Linked DNA regions of Homo sapiens. The protein of the gene in region 2 interacts with the protein of the main gene of each other region in a pairwise test. Each region holds a gene or a part of one and is shown on either strand. Other genes may lie near its edges.

Region 1 (7,905 bases), on a different chromosome or scaffold from region 2:
AAAAATACAAAAATTAGCCAGGCATGGTGGTGGGCACCTTTAGTCCCAGCTACTCGGGAGCTTGAGGCAGGAGAATCACTTGAACCCAGGAGGCGGAGGTTGTGGTGAGCCAAGACTGTGCCACTGCACTCCAGCCTGGGCAACAGAGAGACTCCGTCTCAAAAAAAAAAAAGAAGGAGTAGAGGTGTGTCTGTCACCAGAACCCGACCCGGAGTCTGGCTCATAGCAAGGGGCTGCCAGAATGTTGTTGTGGGGAAGGGCAACAGAACTTTTCAAACTCAGCTCTGACGTGACACTTTTATTAGCAAATTAAAGCCAAGAATTGCAGGTACTCACAGCCAACCTGTGGGCCCCAGCAATCCAGATGGTTCTGAGGTTCCCAGTTTTGCTGGCACACAGATGACCGTAATGGCAGGCAGGGACTTCCCGGAGCAGCCAGGGTAGGAGGGGCTACAGCACTGACCCTCCTAGGGAGTTCAGGAAAAATCTAGGATCTTGATATAGTTTGGCTCTGAGGCCCACACATTTAATAGCCAAGAAACAGAGACGAACTTCTACTGGATCAGAAAGGGTTTCAGAGGCCGGGTGTGGTGGCTCACGTCTGTAATCCTAGCACTTTGGGAGGCCGAGGTGGGCAGACTGCTTGAGGTCAGGAGTTCAAAACCAGCCTGGCCAACATAGTGAAACTCAGTCTCTACTAAAAATACAAAAAAAATTAGCCGGGCATGGTGGCGGGCACCTGTAGTCGCAGCTACTTGGATGGCTGAGGCAGGAGAATGGCTTGAACCTGGGAGGCAGAGGTTGCAATGAGCCGAGATCATGCCACTACACTCCAGCCCGGGCGACAGAGTGAGACTCCATCTCGAAAAGAAGGAAGGAAGGGAGGGAGGGAGGGAAGGAAGGAAGGGAGAGAGAGAAAGAGAGAGAGAAGGAGAGAAAGAGAGAGAGACAAAGAGAGAAAGAGAGAGGAGAGAAAGAGAGAGAGACAGAGAAAGAGAGAAAGAAAGGAAAGAGAAAGAAAGGGTTTCAGAGCTCACTTAATGTACTCTCCCATTTATTCAGCAGCTACTCTATGCTAAACAAAGCATCAAGCTCATACATACTGTTATCATTCTTATTTATAGATGAGAAAACTGAGGCTCAGGGACACTGAGAAACTGGGCCACTGTCACACAGCCAGTGAACCTAAGTCACAACAAACGGCCACAGCCCACGGGTCTCACAAAGGTGTGAATCTGAACAGGTGCACAATATCCAGCTGTGACAGGACAGTGGCTTCTTACAGCAGCTGATTTCTGCCTGACTTCTGATGTTTCTCCAGGAAAAAGGAAACAGGGATTTTTTTTTTCTGGGAAATTGCCTCATTGACAAATGTCAGCAATCAATACTTTTTTCCAAGATATCATGGAGGCCAAGAGCATCTATTTGTGATCTGTATCTGGTCAGTGGTTTGCAGCACCTTCTAGAAATAAGGTGCCACACCCAGCAAAACCCCCTTCCCTCTAATAATAACTATGGTTATTGAACTCCTATGACATGCCATGCAGAGACACCCAGTCTCCACATTCCCAAAGAAGCATGATCTTGTATAAAGAGGATACCTGGACCGGGTGCTCATGCCTGTAATCTCAGCACTTTGGGAAGCCAAGGCTGGTGGATCACCTGAGGTCATGAGTTCAAGACTAGCCTGGTGAACATGGTGAAACCCCCGTCTCTACTAAAAATACAAAAATTAGCCAGGCATGATGGCGGGCACCTGTAGTCCCAGCTACTCAGGAGGCTGAGGCAGGAGAATCGCTTGAACCCGGGAGGCAGAGGTTGCAATGAGCCAAAATCAAGCCACTGCATTCTAGTGTGGGCTACAGAGGGAGACTTCATCTCAACTGAAAAAAAAAAAAAAAAAAAAAAAAAGACACCTGGAGAGGGAGGCCCATAGCTAGTACCAGTGAGACACAGTACTGGGACCTTCTGGGATACACTCCTCCTTCAAAACAGGACTCTTTTCTGTCTCTGGCTCCCAGATGTGAGGGCTGAGGGGTTCCTGGCACCTCCCTCCCGTCCCCCCGCAACTTCCTCTCCCAAGAAGCCTTCCCTGATTACTGCTAGTCTGGCCCACATACACAGTGAAATTGACCCAGCAAGAGCTCTGATCCCAACTCCAAATGTAGATTTATTGAAGAAACGCAGAGAGGTAGGCTGTTTGACCATGGGAGAGCCACTTCACCCTTCTGAATCAGTTTTTTCAACCATAAAATGAAAATAAGGTAGAATGAAGATCTCACAGTGCTGTCTGTGGCAACTGAAACCAAAGGTGATAACGACTGGAGCTCAGGACAGGCTGTTTCTCCAAGAGGAGTGTGAAGAAGTCCCGGGAATCAACATTTTGAGAGCATCCCAGGGGCCTCTAAGAATATATTACGGGCAAACACTTGTAGAGCACTTCATTTCATCCTCAATCACCGTTACGAGGCAGACACAATCATCTCCGAGTGAAACTGAGGCTCACAGGGGCGGGCTCCGTTGCCGAAACTCACAGGGAGAGGCAGAGAAGCACCACGGTTCTATATCCAGGTTATTTAACAGAATTTAACTCAGCCATCCAAGCTCTGAAAAACCCCAAGTGGGGAGGGGCTCAAATATCCCCTCACGCCCCGTCCCCTACAATACAGGGAAACTGAGGCACAAACCGGGCAACGCCCAGCTCCAGGTTACACGACACACCCAGAACACAGGAGGCCCCAATTCCTATGCCCCTGATCCGGATCCAGATCCAGCCCGTAGCGCCGCCTGCGTATCCATTGAGCAGACGGGGAAACTGAGGCCTGTGCGCAGCAGGAATGACCAGATGTGGCCAGTGGCGCACCCCACCCCACCGCAGCCCGGGGGCCGCGCCCGACCCGGACCGGTTCCCCGCGGCCCTGGAGTCCCCAGCCCCACCCCAAACTCGGCCCCGGCGTCGGTAGCGGCGGCACCTGCACATCTGGCGGCCTTGCTCGCGCTTCCGGGATGGCGCCCGCGCCGGCGAAACGTCACCACGCACCGATCCTGCGAGCGCGCGTGGCGGGGACGTACCCTGGAGCCGCTTGCGTGCGTTAAGTCACGACAGGAAAGGGCGGGGCTTAGACGGAGCTTCAGCTCGTGGGTGCATCACAATGAATAGCCAATCAAACAATTCATCTCGCGCCTGCGTATTTCCAGAAGCCCAGGCTTGAAAGCGGCCCGGAAGAAGGAAGGCTGAGAGAAGTGTCCCATTTTGTAGATAGTGTGACTGAGGTCCCAGAGTGGTAACCCTCCCCAAGGTCGTAAATGCTACAGTGGTCAGAGGCCAAACCACACTCAGGTGTCCTGCTTTCCAAGCAGGGAATTAGACTCATCTGTGTTCAGACATCCCTGCTCCACTTTTGCTGATTTTTTTGGTCCAAGTTTCCTTTTTTTTTTTTTTTTTTTTTTTTTGAGACAGAGTTTCGCTCTTGTTGCCCAGGCTGGAGTACAATGGCGTGATCTCGGCTCACCGCAACCTCCGCTTCCCAGGTTCAAGCGATTCATCTGCCTCAGCCTTCCGGAGTAGCTGGAATTACAGGCATGTGCCACCATGCCCGGCAAGTTTTGTGTTTTTAGTAGAGACAGGGTTTCTCCATGTTGGTCAGGCGGGTCCCGATCTCCCGACCTCAGGTGATCTGCCCGCCTCGGCCTCCCAAAGTGCTGGGATTACAGGCATGAGCCACCGCGCCCAGCCCTGGTTTCCATTTACACTTCCACGTTGTTTTGGAGTAATGCGCTGGGGAATTTTTTCAAAAGGGTTTACAGGCTGGGCGCGGTGGCTCACATCCTGTCATTGTAATCCGAGCACTTTGGGAGGCCGAGGCGGGCGGATCACGAGATCAGGAGTTCGAGACCAGCCTGACCAACATGGTGAAACCTTGTCTCTACTAAAAATAAAAAAAATTAGTCGGGAGTGGTGGCGGGAGCCTGTAATCCCAGCTACTCAGGAGGCTGAGGCAGGAGAATCGCTTGAACCCAGGAGGCAGAGGCTGCAGTAAGCCAAGATCGCACCACTGCACTCCAGCTTGGGCGATAGAGCAAGACCACGTCTCAAAAAAAAAAAAGAAGGTCAAGCTAAAAAATGAAGAAAATGTATTTTAAGTTCATGTTAGTTTGTGTATACGAGTACCAAGTTTTTGTAATAAAATGCCTCACAGCTACAATTGGAAAAAAAAAAAAAAACGGGCCTGTGGCCCGAGCCTGTGGTCCCAGTTTCTCAAGAGGCTGAGGTAGGAGTATCGTTTGAGGCCAGGAGGCAGAAGTTGCAGTGAACGAAGACCCCACTCCAGCCTGGGCAACAGAGTGAGACCCAGTCTCAAAAAACAAACAGGCCCGGCGCAGTGGCTCACGCCTGTAACCCCAGCACTTTGGGATGCCAGGCGTGTGGATCACCTGAGGTCGGGAGTTTGAGACCAGACTGGCCAACATGGTGAAACCCCGTCTCTACTAAAAATCCAAAAAAAAAAAAAAAAAATTAGCCTGGCGTGGTGGCAGGTGCTATAATCATAGCTACTCAGGAGGATGAGGCATGAGAATCTCTTGAACCTGGGAGGCGGAGATTGCAGTGAGCCGAGATTGTGCCACTGCACTCCAGCCTGGGTGACAGAATGAGACTTTGTCTCAAAAAGCAACAACAACAACAACAACAAAAATCGCTATAAACTGATGTGGATTAATAAATCCACATCATTATAATTATAATTATTTCCTTTCCTGCCCCTTTAAATTAGCTCCTGGCTGGGTGCAGTGGCTCACGCCTGTAATCCCAGCACTTTGGGAGGCCGAGGCGGGCGGATCATGAGGTCAGGAGATTGAGACCATCCTGGCTAACATGGTGAAACCCTATCTCTACTAAAAATACAAAAAATTAGCCAGGCGTGGTGGCAGGTGCCTGTGGTCCTAGCTACTCGGGAGGCTGAGGCAGGAGAATGGTGCAAACCCGGGAGGCGAAGCTTGCAGTGAGCAGAGATCGAGCCACTGCACTCCAGCCTGGGCGACAGAGCAAGACTCCGTCTCAATAAATAAATAAATAAATAATAAATAAGCTCCTGTGTCCTTTTAATATGTCGCCACCATTCTCTGAGCATTATTTATCTTGGGCTCCACAACATGATCCAATGCTGTGTAAAATCCCTGGAATCAGCCATTTCTCCAAGGAACCTGGTTCCTTTGCTTCAAGAGTAGGATTTAGAAACCAAGATCAGTCGGGGCTCAGTGATTCACGCCTGTAATCCCAGCACTGTGGGAAGCTGAGGTGGGCAGATCAGGAAGTCAGGAGTTCGAGACCACCTGGGCCAACATGATGAAACCCCCCCATCTCTATTAAAAACACAAAAAAATTAGCCAGGCATGGTGGTGGGCACCTGTAATCCCAGTTACTCGAGACACTGGAGAATCACTTGGAACTGGGAGGCAGAGGTTGCAGTGAGCTGAGATCACCCACTGCACTCCAGCCTGGGCAACAAGAGCGAAACTCTGTCTCAAAACAAAAAAGAAAGAGGCCGGGTGTAGTGGCTCACTCCTGTAATCCCAGCACTTTGGGAGGCTGAGGTGGGCAGATCACCTGAGGTCGGGAGTTCGAGACCAGCCTGACCAACATGGAGTAACCCTGTCTTTACTAAAAATACAAAATTAGCCAGGCATGGTGGCACATCCCTGTAATCCTAGCTACTTGGGAGGCTGAGGCAGGAGAATCGTTTGAACCTGGGAGACAGAGGTTGCAGTGATCCGAGATCACACCACTGCACTCCAGCCTGGGCAACAAGAGCGAAACTCCATCTCAAAAAAAAAAAAAAAAAAGAAAGAAGGAAAGAAAGGAAGGGAGGGAGGGAGGGAAAGAAGGGAAAGAAAGAAAGAAATTAGCCGGGTGCTGTGGCTCATGCCTGTAATCCCGGCATTCTGGGAGGCCGAGGCGGGCAGATTACCTGAGGTAAGGAGTTTGAGACCAGCCTGGCCAGCATGGTGAAACCCCGTCCCTACTAAAACACACACACACACACACACACACACCACACACACACAATTAGCTGGGCATTGTGGTGCACACCTGTAGTCCTAGCTACTCGGGAGCCTGAGGCAGGAGAATTGCTTGAACCCAGGAGACAGAGGTTGCAGTGAGCCAAGAACACGCCACTGCACTCCAGCCTGGGCAACAGAGCAAGACTCCATCTCAAAAAAAAAAAAAAAAAAAAAAGGCCGGGCACGGTGGCTCATGCCTGTAATCCTAACACTTTGGGAAGCCAAGGCAGGCAGATTGCCTGAGCTCAGGAGTTCGTGACCAGCCTGGGCAACACAGTGAAACCCTGTCTCTACTAAAACACAAAAAGTTAGCCGGGTGTGGCAGCGTGTGCCTGTAATCCCAGTTACTAGGGAGGCTGAGGCAGGAGAATGGCTTGAACCAGGGAGGCAGAGGTTGCAATGAGCTGAGATTGCGCCACTGCACTCCGGCCTGCGGGACAGAGTGAGACTCTGTCTTCAAAAAAAAAAAATTAAACTAAGATCTGGGTGCTGTGTGTGCTCATTGCTGCTGGGGTGTCACTGCTTCTAGAGGTACCCGTCAGCAGGCACAGCTAAACAATAAGCCAGGCGTGGTGGCACAAACCTGTAATCTCAGCTACTCAGAAGGATGAGGTGGGAGGATCACTTAAACCCAGGAGTTTGAGGCTGCAGTGAGCTGTGATCAAGCCACTGCACTCCAGCCTGGGTGACAGAGACCCATTCTCCAAATAAATACAAATCATGAAGCTGGGTGCAGTGGTTCATGCCTGTAATCCTAGCACTTTGGGAGGCCGAGGCGGGCAGATCAGTTGAACTCAGGAGTTTGAGACCAGCCTGGGCAACATGGCAAAAGTCTGTCTCTACAAAAAATACAAACATGGCCAGGTGCACTCCTGTAATCCTAGCATTTTGGGAGGCTGAGGGGGGCAGATCACCTGGGGTCAGGAGTTTGAGACCAGCCTGGCCAACATGACGAAACCCTGTCTCTACTAAAAACACAAAAATTAGCTGGGCGAGGTGGCGCATGCCTGTTATCCCAACTACTTGGAAGGCTGAGGCAAGAGAATCGCTTGAACCCAGGTGGCTGAGGTTGCGGTGAGCCGAGATCGTGCCGTTGCACTCCAGCTGGGTGATAGAGTGAGACTCTGTCTCAAAAAACAAAACAAGTGGCCAGGCGCGGTGGCTCAGTGGCCAGGTGCAGTGGCTCAAGCCTGTAATCCCAGGACTTTGGGAGGCCGAGGCAGGTGGATCATGAGGTCAGGGGTTTGAGACCAGCCTGGCCAACATGGTGAAACCTCGTCTCTACTAAAAATACAAAAATTAGCCAGGCATGGTGGTACGTGCCTGCAATCCCAGCTACACACAAGGCTGGGCAGGAGAATCACTTGAACCCAGGAGGCGGAGTTTGCAGTGAGCTGAGATCGCGCCATTGCACTCCAGCCTGGGTGACAAAGTGAGACTCTGTCTCAAAACAACAACAAAAACAAAAACAAAAACATTAGCTGGGCGTGGTGGCGCATGCCTGTAGTCCCAGCTACTCAGGAGGCCGAGGTGAGATCACCCGAGTCCCAAAGGTGGAGGCTGCAGTGAGCCGTGATTGCACCTCTGCACTCCAGTCAGGCAACAGAGCAAGACCCTGTCTCAAAAAATAAAAAATAAATACAAACCATGAATTCATACGGAGATGAGGATGCCTTTTCTTTTTTTGAGACAGAGTCTCGCTGTTGTTGCCTGGGCTGGAGTGCAATGGCGCCATCTCGGCTCACTGCAACCCTGCCTCCCAGGTTCAAGCAATTCTCCTGCCTCAGCCTCCTGAGTAGCTGGGATTATAGGCGCCCACCACCATGCCCGGCTAATTTTTTGTAT
Region 2 (7,341 bases):
GTCCTTGTAACCTTTCCTGTACTATGAAATCTGCTATGTTATAGAAATAAAATCAAAACTAAACCACCATCGAAACCCAAATTCACACCTTCAAAGTCAAGCATCTAATAATTAACAGCATACCGAAGTTTACACACACGTTAAAAACAAGTAAATCTGGCATATGCCACAGCAAAATACAGGCCTCCATTATGAGGAGTACTGAGAAGCACATTCGCATCCTTCCTTTTCTGGTGCACCACAGGCTCTCCCTCCAGTGGAGACTTGTCGTTTCATCTACTTTCATTACATGTATTTCAATTGCAAAGAGGCTCTGATCAAGCAAAGCCCATCCTTACAAAATTGGAATCCACATGCAAACCAAATAGTTCTTTTTCCAGCTCACACCATGTCATGTGATTACATCAACACATAGCAAAAAACTGGGTATTATATTTTCCAAATTGTCAGATGATCCCAAACAAAAAAATCCAAACCCCTAAAATCAATGGCAGTCCCTTAAATATCACTGTGACAAGAACACTTAACAGTAATATACAGAATCATCCATCCTACTATACCATCCACAGTCCAACACAGGTTAGTTAACCTCTGTGCAATGAATTCCCAGCCCCTGGGACCAGATGTGTCAGGATAGAGAGACAGACAGAGGGAGGGGGAAGATAGTAACAGCAACAAAACATTTTCCTACGAAACTTGCACACATCTCTCCAAGTCTAACAGGTGCAACTACAGTCTAGACATCCCCTCACAGTTCTCTGACAAACAAGTTTCCCCATAACATATGTCCCCAGAGCTACTCCCCTGTAGACCGGAGATGGCCTTTTCTTCAAGAACTCAACTTTCACTTAGCAAATAAAACCAATCCCTAGCAAGCCTCCCTCACACAGAACCATCTTAGGCTGTTCCTGTGGAAAATCCAATTGGGAAAAAAAGACCTCCAAACCATCACCTCCTCCAAGTGCAGACCTCCTCCAGGCTGGCCATCACCATCCAAGGGTGATCCCTGGGAGCTGAGAAAAGGTACATGCTTTAGTCGAATCCAGCTTGCCAGTCTCCGCAGCCACCAGCAACCAGTCCCACGCTGGCCTCTCCCCTCCCAGAGACCACAGCACCTGTTAGGTGCTTTTTCTTTCCCACCTCCAAAGCAACGCTTGCCCTTTCCTTTTGAATAATGTCCAACTGCAGAATCCTACAGGGGTGGCTTGTTTTGACTGCTGCGGCGGCCCTTATTTTTGTTAATGTTGATTACAATTTCTGCTGTGCTCAAACCTGTAGCACTCATAAAACATGCTTACACACGCGGGGGACAATTGGCGATGCTCCCTGCTGGCTGGAGCCAGGCCTGGGAGGCTCTTTGGGGGATCGATTTTCCGGGCAGGCCGGTCTGGCTGTCCCCTAACACGTATCTGTTTCTATAAATACCCACTACCCACGGGGAGGTGGGGGAAGGACAGAGATGTTTACCGGGTCAGGGAAGGGAACTCTGGGATGCAAGGACGAAAAATGAGGAAAGAAGGAAAGCAGCAAGGAGGAAGTTCCTAGGAAGAGGAGGTCATGGGTGGGCGAGCTCTGGAGGGGAAGTAAGGGGCCCACGCCACGAATCTTCCTTTGTGGCTGCAGCTTTGGGCTCGCCCAACTTAACCAGGGCGGCGTCGACGAGAGACCATCGGCCCGAGGCGTGGGGCTGCTTGTATCTCGACCCCTCTTCTCCCGGCGTCAGACCCCTCCAAGTCCGGGTGCTTCGGCCTGGGGCCCCTCCCGCCCCCACCGCCCGGGCCGCCCGCGGGCTGGGTCTCACCGTGTGGGCTGCGGCGGCAGCGTTGCTGGCCCGGAGAGGCGGCAGGGCGATGGGGGAGGGCGGGCCAGTCCCCACTCCGCTCCGGGTGGCCCCTGCACCGAGCCCCGGGGAAGCCTGAAGCTGACGAACGGCGCTGTCCCCACCTCGGCCTGGAAGCCACGTGCGGGAGGAGACAAAAGAGGGTCAGGGGGGAGAAAGTCACCCAGACCCCCCCTCCAACCCCGCTGGGCAGCGACAACCCTCTTCCAAAGAAAGACGGAGGAAGAGACCGGGGCAGTAAAAACGGGCGTTCGGGTCACGGCTCCCCAGCGCACACCCACGGGCGGGGCGCGGGCAGCTGCAAAGTTAAGTGGGGCCCTGGCGCGCGAGTTCGCGACCCGGCGGGGGAGCCGGGCCGCGCCGGGGCTAGGCGGCCCACGTTGCAGACGGCCAGCAGCCGGGAGGTGGGTTTGGACAGCTGAGCAGGGAGCCACGGCCACGCCAAGCCCCGGGCAGCGCAGGGCGGGGCGGCAGGCCTGGACGGTCCCCGCCCGGGCCCCCGGCAGGCAGAAGCCTCTTCGGGCCGAGGGCTCCCCGCGGAGGGGCCTTCGGGGCCGCGCACAACCCTGCATGGAGCCCGGGGCGCGTCGTCCGCCCGGGGGCTCCCCCGCGCCGCGCCGCCGACTTTGTTCGAGGTCCCGCAGGCAGCGGCCGCCCGCGCCACAGGGGCTGCCCAGGGCCGGCGGGGGTCCGGGGATGCGGCGCGGCGGCACGGCCTCCTTACCGGTCGGGTAGGCGGCGGGAGCGGCGGCCGAAGGTTTCCTGGTTAACATGGCCGCTGGAGAGGAAAATGCATTTCAGGGCTGCCGTCGCCGCCGCCGGTCCTGCTGCTACTTCTGGCGGCCGCCGCCGCCGCCTCCCGGCCGCCCCTCGCGCGGGTCCCCGGCGCCTCGTCGCCGCCTCGCGTCTGCTACAGCCAGACACACACAGTCCACTGCATCCCCTCGGCCGGGGCCCGCCGCCGCGAGCCCCCCGCTCTCCTCCTCGCCGCCGTCCTCCTCTTCCTCGGGCGGCTGCAGCACCCTCCGGCCCGTGCACATGCCTCGCCCTCCCCTGCGCGCCGCGGGCCTCCCCGTCTCCCTCACATAGGGGCGCGGGGAGCTGGAAGCGCTGCGAGGACCGAAGACCGCCTGGCTCGGGAGCCTCTCCCGGGCCCGCGCGCGCGCGCCCCCGCGCACTCACACACAGGCGCCGGCGCGCGGCCCCGCCCCCGCCGCCCTCCGCCGCCCTCCTCCGCCGCCGCAGGCCCCGCCCCCGGCTCCCCCGGCCGCGGCCACGCACACCCCACCCCCACCCAACCTCCCGCCCGGCTCCTCTCAGTCCCCCGGTTTGCGCGCAGCCGCCCCTCCGCTCCCCGGAAAACTCGGCGGCCTCCGCTCGCCCTCCTCCGCCCCCTCCGGCCATCTGCACTGCTTCCCTCGGCTCCACTCCGGCGACCTTTTCCCCTCCCCGGCCCCGCGGCGCCCCTTCTCTGCCCTACAGCTCAACCTACCGCTGCTGCCCTCCGGCCGAAAGCGCCGCAGAGACCCCTCCCCTGCCATGCGCACCCCTAAACATAAATGCATTTTCAGCTCTTCGAACTGAATGGCTGCTCACAGACAGTACTGCTTCCCCGTCCCCCCATTCTTGGTCCCAGCGACTTAGCCACTCCCCTCTCCCCAATTCATCATGTAGATAACTTAGTTGTGCGAGGGTCACCTCGGAGAGGCAAGTCCCGGGAGGGGCGGCCGCTGAGCTCGTTGACCCTGAGCAGGGGCGAAAGAGGGGGCTGCCCTCCCACCTCCACCACACACCCTCCCCGGTTTACTGACACCAAGTGACCGCTCGCCAGTCGCTAGGACAAGGGGAGGCAGAGAGGCGCGTGTGGACGGCAGCTGGGGAAGCAGTTGGCTGTGGGTTGCTAGGCAAAAATAAACATCAGAGACATCTCCTATTTCCTTACAACTCCGAGCCTTTCCCCTGCGCGGCCACTGGGAGAGACACACCTTCCTTTCAGCTCTGCGGTGAGGGAGCGACACCTCGAATTCCTCTCACCCCACCCGACACATCTCTTTCCCCCTTCCCTTCCAAGACACGTGGAGAATTTCCCTGCCTTTTTTATTCGCCATATACAACCTCTCTTTTCCTTGAAGACCAAAAAAAAATTGCTTTCCCGTCTCACATCCGCGCCTCGTCGTGCGTGGCACACAGTGCGCCTCTGTTCAAAGGTCACAGGTTTTGCCACTTCAACTGTGAGAGGAGGTGGGGTGGGAAAGCCCGACAAATCCCGGATGACGGGGCAGAGTTATGCCATGCACTTCCTTCTCGAGAGGTGCCTAGTTTCTGAAGTTCTCTTGGGGCCAGGGGTCCATTATGCTCTGCCCCGCCCGAGTATCTCTGGCTCCTGGCTGGACCTACTGTGCAGGCCCGAACTAGTGCAGACTCCAGTCGGAAGGGAGCCACCTCCTGCGGAGTTTCATCCACTCTACTGTTTGCAAATTGTCATAGCAACCTCCTACAGAGCGCATCCGCAGCTTTATACAAACGCCAAAAACTGTTTCAAGGTACAGTGTGACCCTCTCAGAGTCTCTGGGACTCCTAAAGAGGCCTCCAAGTTAGGGTCACTGGGAGAGGGAACCTGTGACAAAAAGAATTTTCCCTAGTATTACGTCCCTCCAAACAAAACAAAACAAAACAAAACAAAACAAAACACCCTTTCGGGGCCTTCTCCTAATAAAGTAGACCCACAGTAAAATAATCCAATAATATGCCTTTAGAGGAATCATGACCTGAACTGACCCTAGCAAGAAATATCCCCCTATGCTTGTCACTGGCGACCATCACATTTAAATCCACATGCGGAAGCATATTTAGTGTTTAGAATCGACTAAAAGAAAAGGGCTACTAAGTAGCAGAGATGACACTAGAACCGGTTTTCTGACTCCCAGTCTGATTTCACTATGACTTCCATCACACTACTTTCCTTACACTTTCAAGAAAGCTCACACCTCTTTTTTCTCCTTTCAAAACAATTATTTTCATACCATTTTCCTTTTTAAAATGAGTACTCCATACAACTGATGTTCAAATAAAAAAATGAAACAAAAAAATCAATTTTAATATAATATGACACCCCTTTTTGCTTAAGTTATTCGTACAATACTTCAGTAGAAGCTAAATATGCCACTGTTTTCTCATGAATAAAATAAATGCTAGTTACTGGAAGCCATAGTTTACGATTTCCAAATTAGTAATATTAATTTACTCATTTAACATGAGGAAAAGGAGCACTGATTCTTTTTTTTTTTTTTTTTTGACAAAGGATCACAATCATTAACTTTAAGAAAGAAAAAGACAATAGGGAACTTTTTGTAGTATATTGTTTTATATCATGACAAATATAATTTCAATTTTGTATATTTTTTGTGGCTTAACATAAGGAAATATTGCAGTTGACCTACCCCATAGCTATTTTGATTATAAATGGTACATCTTTGAAAATTATATTAATTTTTACTGACCTCTAAGTGACTATTAACCATTGCTTAGATTTTCCTCATTCTGTTAAATATTCTATTAAATATTGACATCTCCCTGAGTGAATGTTAAATAGAAAAGCTGTACAAACACACTCCTGGGGCTTTGGGGAGAGTGAAGTGGGTAAATTTGGGGAGTTATTTCCCTCAAATTTTATTATCATAATGCATCATTATCAATTATCTCATATAATTACACATATTTTGATCTCTTTATAAAACACTTTCACAAATATTACCATGTTTAATCTTCATAACTCCACCAGAGCAGATTTCATTTTAAATAGGAACCTCCTTAAAAGCTTCATTCAGTTAGCAAGAGACTGCTCTTTGGTTTTCACCCATTGTAAAAACTCTGTGTGTTCTATATGTTTAAAATCCAGATTCAGATAACAAGGAGGTAGGCAGGATCTAGCAGGAGTAGAGAGAAACAGGAGAACTCAGAATAGAGCCTTGAGGAAGAAAGTTGATTTTTCACTGGGCAAAGTACTGATCACAAGGAAAATTGGAAATGAACATAAAAATTGCTGGTTTCAAAACACATTTACTCATTTAATCCCCTTATCCCAGAAACATTTACAAAGAATTTAGTATGTGCTAGGCCTAGGAGACATGATGAATCATCAAATGCAGTAGACTACACTTCAGTCTGGCAATCTATTAGGAACTCATTCTTGTTTTGTTTTGTTTTTGTTTTTTTGAGACAGAATTTCACTGTGTTGCCCAGGCTGGAGTGCAGTGGCACAATCTCAGCTCACTGCAACCTCTGCCTCATGGTTCAAGTGGTTCTCCTGCCTTAGCCTCCCGAGTAGCTGGGACTACAGGTGCCCACCAACACGCCTAGCTAATTTTTGTATTTTTTGTAGAGACGGGGTTTCACCACGTTGGCCAGGCTGGTCTCCAACTCCTGACCTCAAGTGATCCACCTGCCTCGGCCTCCCAAAGTGCTAGGATTACAGGCGTGAGTCACCACACCTGTCCAGGAACTCATTCTTTTATTCAATTAAGCAATAAGCTATAAGAACCTAACATATTTTTGGCACCGTTGGTGGAATGTTATGGTCTGAATGTTTGTGTACGCCCCAAATTTATATTTTGAAATCCTAACCCACAATGTGATGGTATTAGGAGGTGGTTAGATCAAGTGACTGCAGAGAGTTAGTAGCCTTTTCCACCATGTGGGGACACAGAGAGCAGGCACCATTTATGAACAAGGAAACAGGCCCTCACCAGACACTAAATCTGCCAGCACCACGCTCTTGAACTTTCCAGCCTCCAGAACTGTGAGAAACAAATTTCTGTTTGTTACAGTTACCCAGGTTATAGTATTTTGTTATAGTAGCCCTAACAAACTAAGACATGGGGCTACACAGTTAAATAATCCCTGGCTCTGGTCACTGCTACTAGGAAGTTCACAGTTCCGTACGGGAGACCAGACATTTAATGAAGTGAAAAGAGTGGTAAAGAAGGCATATAGGAGTCACAGAGATAGCACACAGGAGAGAGGGACGAGCTCCACTTAAGTGGTGTCTGGCAGGGGCTGTGCTTCAGTGGAGGTTTTAAAGACGCGTGGGAATTTGCAAGTTAGGCGAGACAGGTTAGGACATTCCAAGTGGAAGAAATAGGATGTTCAGAAGCGTCAAGTTGTAAGAAAGCATGATGTGTCCCAGGGGAAGGGGAAGCAATTCAGAATAGAGGAAACTTGGGGTGCCAGGCAGAGGGGTGGTACTGCTATCTTCCTAGGGTTAGGTTTATGGATAGATCAAGTCAGGTTAAGAATTATCCTAAACTTGGCCAGGCATGATGGCTCATGCCTATAATCCCAGTGCTTTGAGAAGCTGAGGAGGGAGGACCAGGAGTTTGAGACTAGCCTGGACAACATAGCAAGACCCTGTCTCCACAAAAAAAGTAAAAATAAAGAAATATTCTAAACTTTATCTGCTATGGATATGTGAAAACAAGGTGCAGGGGCTTTTGGAGCAGCTA
Region 3 (7,019 bases), on a different chromosome or scaffold from region 2:
AATAAATGGGGTGGAACAGGAGAGAAGGAATGGGGGCCGGGTGCGGTGCCTCACGCCTGTAATCCCAGCACTTTGGGAGGCAGAGGGGTGGGTGGTTCACTTGAGGTCAGGAATTCGCGAACAGCCTGGCCAACACGACAAAACCCCACCTCTACTAAAAATACAAAAAATAGCCAGGTGTGGTGGCAGGAGCCTGTAATCCCGGCTACTCGGGAGGCTGAGGCAGGAGAATTGCTTGAACCCGGGAGGCAGAGGTTGCAGCAAGCCAAGATCGTGCTGCTGCACTCCAGCCTGGGCAACAGACCAAGACTCCGTCTAGAGAAAAAAAGAAGTGGGGCTGGGCGCGGTGGCTCACGCCTGTAATCCCAGCACTTTGGGAGGCTGAGGTGGGCAGATCACAAGGTCAGGAGATCGAGACCACCCTGGCTAACACGGTGAAACCCTGTCTATACTAAAAATACAAAAACAAAATTAGCCAGGCGTGGTGGTGGGCGCCTGTAGTCCCAGCTACTTGGGAGGCTGAGGCAGGAGAATGGTGTGAACCCAGGAGGCGGAGCTTGCAGTGAGCCAAGATCGCGCCACTGCACTCCAGCCTGGGCAACAGAGTGAGACTCTGTCTCAAAAAGAGAGACAGAAAAAAAAAATGTGGCGTTCAGAGACACAGCCCCTGGGCTGCCCACCTCTGGACTTATGACATGCAGGAAGAGCATGCTCTTGGGTTTTAAGCCATGCTGTGGAGGGGTTTCTGTTGCCCGTAGCCACCTCTAACCTGTCGCATGCCCTGACCTTGTGCCTGGCCCTCTGGCAAATGCTGTCTGGCCATCAGTGCACTGATTCCTCAAGCATGCTTCATGGAGTCAGGGCTCTCATGAACCAACTTGGCAGATGAGGTGACTGCAACACAAGGAAGTCCCCTGCCTGCAGTTACCTAACCAGACAGGGCAGAGCCCTGACCTCTAAGCCAGTAGTTCTCAGTCCTGGCTGTACATTAGATTTCCCTGGGGAGCATCTGAAAAGTGTCAAAGCCTAAGATTAGTTGAGTGAAAGTTTGGTGAGGAACAAGATAATATTTGCACTGTCTCAGGAAAGATGTCCCCAGGATACCTGCTAATCACAAAGGTGAAAAGAGAGGCTTTGAAGTGGAGGAATCTGGCAGGCAACACCTTGGCCAAGTGCTCCCAGTGAACACCACCAGTCATAGGAGACCTCCTGAGAGGAGGCACCAGGAAGAACACAGCACCCCTTCTGGTCTGTTCCTGCCAAAGATGCAGAACCTGAGTCTGCCCGTGAGGAGGCATTGGACAAACCCAAATGCTGGGACACTCTACAAAATACCTCGTCTACAATCCTCAGTGTCAAGATTGGCCGGGTGCAGTGGCTCAAGCCTGTAATCCCAGCACTTTGGGAGGCCGAGGCGGGTGGATCACGAGGTCAGGAGTTCGTGACCAGCCTGACCAACATAGTGAAACCCCGTCTCTACTAAAAAAAAATACAAAAATTAGCCAGGCACGGTGGCGCATGCCTGTAGTCCCAGCTACTCAGGAGGCTGAGGCAGAGAATCGCTTGAACCCAGGAGGTGGAGGCTGCAGCGAGCCAAGATCGCCCCACTGCACTCCAGCCCGGGCGACAGTGTGAGACTTCGTCTCAAAAAACAAAAAAACAAAAAAAAGTGGCCAGGTGCTGTGGCTCACGCCTGTAATCCCAGCACTTTGGGAGGCCAAGGCGGGCGGATCACAAGGTCAGGAGATCGAGACCATCCTGGCCAACATGGGGAAACCCCAGCTCTACTAAAAATACAAAAATTAGCCGGACATGGTGGCATATGCCTGTAATCCTAGCTACTCGGGAGGCTGAGGCAGGAGAATCACTTGAACTGGGGAGTCAGGTTGCAGTGAGCCAGGATCCCACCACTGCACTCCAGCCTGACGACAGAGACTCCATCTCAAAAAGAAAAAAAAAAATGTCAAGATCCTGAAAGTCAAGAAAAGACAGAGGAGCCACGTCAGCCTGAAAGAGACTGAGGGGACAACTCAATGCAATGTGTGATTCTAGACAGAATCCTTTGGCCATAAAGGACATTCATGGGACAAAGGCTGACTCCTGAATGGTGCCCTCTGGGGAGTGGATGAGAGTGATATATCAATTTTCATTTCCTGATTTTGCTGGATGTATTACAGTTTAAAAAGATTGTCATTTTTTTTTGTAGGAAATACACACTGAAGTATTTATTTGATTAAGTTTTTTTTTTTTTTTTTTTTTTTTTTGAGACGGACTCTTGCTCTGTCACCCAGGCTGGAGTGCAGTGGCATGATCTTGGCTCACTGCAACCTCTGCCTCCCGGGTTCAAGCGATTCTCCTGCCTCAGCCTCCCGAGTAGCTGGGATTACAGGCGCCTGCCACCAGGCCTGGCTAATTTTTGTATTTTTAGTAGAGACAGGGTTTTGCCATGTTCCCCAGGCTGGTCTCAAACTCCTGACCTCAAATGATCTTCCTGCCTCCAAGGCCTCCCACAGTGCTGAGATTACAGGCGTGAATCACCATGCCTGGCGTGAAGTATTTAGAGATATAGGGGCATCATGTCTACAACTGATTCTCAAATAGTTCAGAACAAATTAATATGTATATAGACAAAAAATGATAAAGCAAATGTGGTAAAATGCTAACATTTGGCCAAGTGCAGTGGCTCGCACCTGTAATCCTAGCACTTTGGGAGGCTGAGGCAGGCAGACTGTCTAAGCTCAGGAGTTCAAGACCACCTTGGGCAACATGATGAACCCCGTCTCCACTAAAACACAAAAAACTAGCTGGGCATGGTGGCACATGCCTGTGGTCCCAGCCACCTGGGGGGCTGAGGCATGAGAATCACCTGAACCCGGGAGGTGGAAGTTGCAGTGAGCTGAGACTGTGCCACTGCACTCCAGCAGCCTGGGTGACAGAGCAAGACTCTGTGTCCAAAAAAAAAAAAGAAAAAAAAGCTAACATTTGTGAAATATGTGAAAGGTACATAGGTATATAGGAGCTCTTTGTACTATTCTAAGTCTGAAATTATTTCAATATAAAAAGTCTCAAAATTGCCAATGCCCAAGTTTCATCCCAGATCAACTGATTTGGCTTTCTCTTGCGTGGCGGTGGGGGGGCGGTGAGGCACAGGGACCAGGTGATTCTGATATGCAGTTGGAGTGAAAATCCCCACACTGGCCACACCACCTCCTAATGCACACCCACTGGTGGCCAAGGGCGGACACCTGCATACCATCTACTATAGATCCAGGCCACCCACTCCACTGCCTACAGGGATTAGGGAGGCAACACAGGTGTGAGGAACTGGCCACAACGGGCCTGACAAATTTCACTAAGCTCAGCCCCTCACTGCCACAGGGGAATTTGGGCCCCAGAGGCCAGAGAATTTCTCACTTCTCCAAACAAAAGGGACATTTGGATTTTTGTGTTAAAAAACTTGAAATGTTGTCCACTTATCCAACCTTTAAAACATACTATATTGGGCAAGTGTGTGTGACTCTGGTTTGTAGCTGCTGCCTTATGAATGCTCTCCCAGTTGGAGGCAGCTATTTTATTTTCAGAGGAGACCAAGGCTCTGAAAGAAGTGTCTCACCTGAGATTCCACAGTGAATAGACGCTTGAGCCAGGAATGGAACCCAGCTCTGCCCTTATCACCAGTAACAGAACCCACAGTTAGGAGCAAAAGGTCCAAAAAGCCACTTTCAAGAGGGAATGCACTTCTGTCAGATAACAAGAACCTGCCGTAGCTTAAGGACCGTACCTTAGGGACCATAAGGGCAGGAGAAAACCCACTCCTTATCCATCCACCTGGAGAACTGGGCCAAAGGAGCTGAGCCTGAGCTATGCCAAGGAGGGACATGGTGTGCCTTCCAAAGGTCACAGCCCTATTGGGACCACATCCCCAGGGTAGCAGTGATCAGTTAGCCCCAAGGCAGAGGAGCGGGTCCTTCCCCAGTAAACTTATAGCTGAAGGGATCTTTCTAAAACCCAAATCATGTTAAGTCTTTCTCTTAGAAAATAGCCATCAATATGCCAGATACTGCTCTTTGGTGCTAGGGACACAGAAATGAACTCAGAGAAAGTCCCTGCTCTCAAGAGTGCTCACACTGAGGGAGACCCACAGTGAATACCATCAATGAGGAAACTGGACAGCATATCAGAGATGGGAGCAAATTTTGTGGAGAAAAGCAAAGCAGGGAATAGAGCTGCTGGAGGGCTGGGGGTGAAAAGCACATTCCTGGCCTGTGGTGCCCTCCTGTGGCTGCTCTCTGCACTCAGCATGCTATGCAGACCCTCTACAAGGCTGCAAGGCCTACGGGATGTGGCTTCTGCCTGGTCCAGCCTCATCTTCCCTGCTCCTTTCTCCAGGCACCCAGATCCCTGGCTGCTTCTAAAGCGCCGGAGATTCTTAACCACTGCAGGGCCTTTGCCCTTCCTGTGCCCCCTGCCTGAAGCGCTCTCCCTACAGCTTCTTATGGGTCACCCTCTCGCTTCCTTCAGGTCTCAGAGTCAAGGCAGCGTTCCCTGAGCCTTCTGATAAGGCTTTCCTCCTATTCTCTGCCCACAAACCTGCCCGAAGACATCCTCCATCATTTCCTCCATAGCACTGATCATGATCAGCCCGTAATTTGCTGACTAGTTTACAGTCTGTCTCGCTCTAGCCAGCAGAGATTCTCGTCTCCTCTGGTCACTGCTGTGTCCCCAGCACACGGAACAGCACCCAGCACAGGCGAATGCTGCTGAGCCAACATGTAAGTGAATGAGTGAGCACCTACCCATGAGTATCTCCAGGCTGTGTAGGGGAGGGGAGGCGTGCCAAGCCCCTGGTTCCACCCCTGCCCCGGGCCCAGGCCTCAGCCTACCTGGCGGTGTTAAAGATGTGCTGCTGCTTGTTCTCCTTGGGGTCCAAAATCACCACCACACAGCTGGGAAGAAAGAGGAAAATGTGCCTCAACTGTGGGGAGTGTTGGGGTCCTGGGATGATTCTATTCCCACCAGAAAAGCCCACAAATAAACAAGCTCCCTCGGTTCTCTCTGGTCTCCTCCTCCTCCCCCTCCTCCAGGTGTTTACGCTGAGAATTCTAGGGCACTTTAACATTGCTATGTTCTTAAATAGAAACCAACACTTCCTCTGAGGTAATGTCTGTCAGGCCCTAGGCTAATTAAGACCTTAAGCTGGCTATAATCCCAGCACTTTGGGAGTATGGGGCAGGAGGGATCACTTGAGCTCAGGAGTTTTAGACCAGCCTGGGCGACAGAGTGAGATCTCATCTCCACTAAAAAAAATTAGCTGGCTGTGGTGGCATGTGCCTGTAGTCCCAGCTACATGGGAGGTGAAGATGGGAGGATCGCTTGAGCACAGGAGGTTGGGGCTGTAGTGAGCTGTTATTCACACTATTGCATTCTAGCCTGGGCAACACAGCCAGACTCTGTCTCAAAAAAGCAAAACAAAACAAAAAGAGAGAAAGAGGGATGTAATTGTTTTAAATCCTCACAACTGCCAGGTCAGGTCACGACTATTTAGGCCCATTTATAGATAAGGAAACAAACCCAGAGAGGGGACGTCCTTAGCACAGTGCCAGGCTACATGAGTATTTATGGAATGAACAGCTGTAGCATCTTCTTCAGTCTTCTCAACTATGCAAGCAGAGGGGGTCACCAGCTCTGTTTTACAGAGGCAGAGGAAGAGGCTCAGAGAGCAGCATACATGGCAGAGCTGGGACACAAATCCAGGTTACCTGACACCACAGCGTGGACTTTAATCACCTGTCTTTCCCAGAATCGCTGTCACCTCCCCCCTGTAGTCATAATAAAGGCTTTCATTGCACTCACTACATGCCAGGAACTGTTCTAGACAGAGAGGGGGCTATGGAATCCTCTCCACAGCTCTCAGAGGCAGGCCCCATTCTCCACATTCTACAGGTGAAAAATATGAGGCTCAGAGCGATTTACGGATGGCTTCAGGTTCCAAGCTCCAAATTCCCTAGCAATGATTAGACGTCGAGGCCCTTATCTGCTTACCCTGCCAGGTAGGCCACATGGCCTGTGCCGGGGTCACAGGTTAGGCCACTGCTGTTCTGGGCTGTGATGCCAAGCACCTTCTCGAGTGACACCTGCAAAGAAAAAGCCCAAGTCAGAGGCACCCACCCTAGCCAGCACCACATGGTGCAGCCGCCTTGGCCACCCATTCAGGTCCTGCTACATTCAACACCCACACTGAGCTTCTGTGGCCACGCCATCCACCAGCAGCTAACACTTGTTCTCTCAACATTCCTTTGACAAATACAACGCTAGGTGAAAAGCACAGAGTGGTGAGGAAGAGACAAATCCCTGCCCTCGGGGGGCTCACATTCTACTGGTGATGGGTATGTAGAACATAGAAAAGGAGCAGAACAAATATGTGAAATAGATGCCAAGTAATGATGGGTGCAAGAGAGAAGAAAGCAGATAAGGAGGTTAGGAGCACAGGGGAAGGGGGCGAATGCCGCGGTGAGAAGGTGACCTGTGAATAAGTTTCTAAGTACTTTTTTTTGTTTGTTTTTGAGATGGAGTCTTGCTCTGTCACCCAGGCTGGAGTCAGTGGTGAGATCTTGGCTCATTGCAACCTCCGCCTTCCAGGTTCAAGCAATTCTCCTGCCTCAGCCTCCTGAGTAGCTAGGATTACAGGCACATGCCACCATGTCCGGCTAATTTTTGTATTTTTAGTAGAGATGGGGTTTCACCATGTTGGCCAGGCTGGCCTCGAACTCCTGACCTCAGGTGATACACCCGCCTCGGCCTCCCAAAGTGCTAGGATTACAGGCATGAGCCACTGTGCCCGGCCTCTTAGTACTTTTATATGTATAAAAGACTTGAATCCTCCCAACAAGCCACGAAGAAGGCTCTATTATCACCCCTGTTTTACAGGTAAGAAGTCTGAGGCCCAAGATCCTACATCTGCAAGTGGCAATGTTGATATACAAACCCAGGCAGTCTGGCTCCAAAGCTAGCACTTTGGG

Evidence for each region. The genes of interacting proteins can lie anywhere in the genome.
Region 1: the proteins of DYRK2 (region 2) and KXD1 interact in binary tests that used the Homo sapiens proteins (3 or more experiments, as listed by UniProt).
Region 3: the proteins of DYRK2 (region 2) and WDR62 interact in binary tests that used the Homo sapiens proteins (3 or more experiments, as listed by UniProt).

Annotation. Positions count from the first base shown.
Region 1 is NC_000019.10:18,552,982-18,560,886, reverse strand, and holds the start of KXD1 (kxDL motif-containing protein 1), read right to left. Parts: upstream 3,018-7,905; 5' UTR 2,973-3,017; exon of another isoform or gene 337-2,972; intron 1-336.
Region 2 is NC_000012.12:67,644,406-67,651,746, reverse strand, and holds the start of DYRK2 (dual specificity tyrosine-phosphorylation-regulated kinase 2), read right to left. Parts: upstream 3,003-7,341; 5' UTR 2,614-3,002; coding exon 2,565-2,613; intron 1,951-2,564; coding exon 1,802-1,950; exon of another isoform or gene 953-1,801; intron 1-952. UniProt on the Homo sapiens protein: Serine/threonine-protein kinase involved in the regulation of the mitotic cell cycle, cell proliferation, apoptosis, organization of the cytoskeleton and neurite outgrowth. Functions in part via its role in ubiquitin-dependent proteasomal protein degradation.
Region 3 is NC_000019.10:36,057,895-36,064,913, reverse strand, and holds part of WDR62 (WD repeat-containing protein 62), read right to left. Parts: intron 6,135-7,019; coding exon 6,043-6,134; intron 4,947-6,042; coding exon 4,884-4,946; intron 1-4,883. UniProt on the Homo sapiens protein: Required for cerebral cortical development. Plays a role in neuronal proliferation and migration.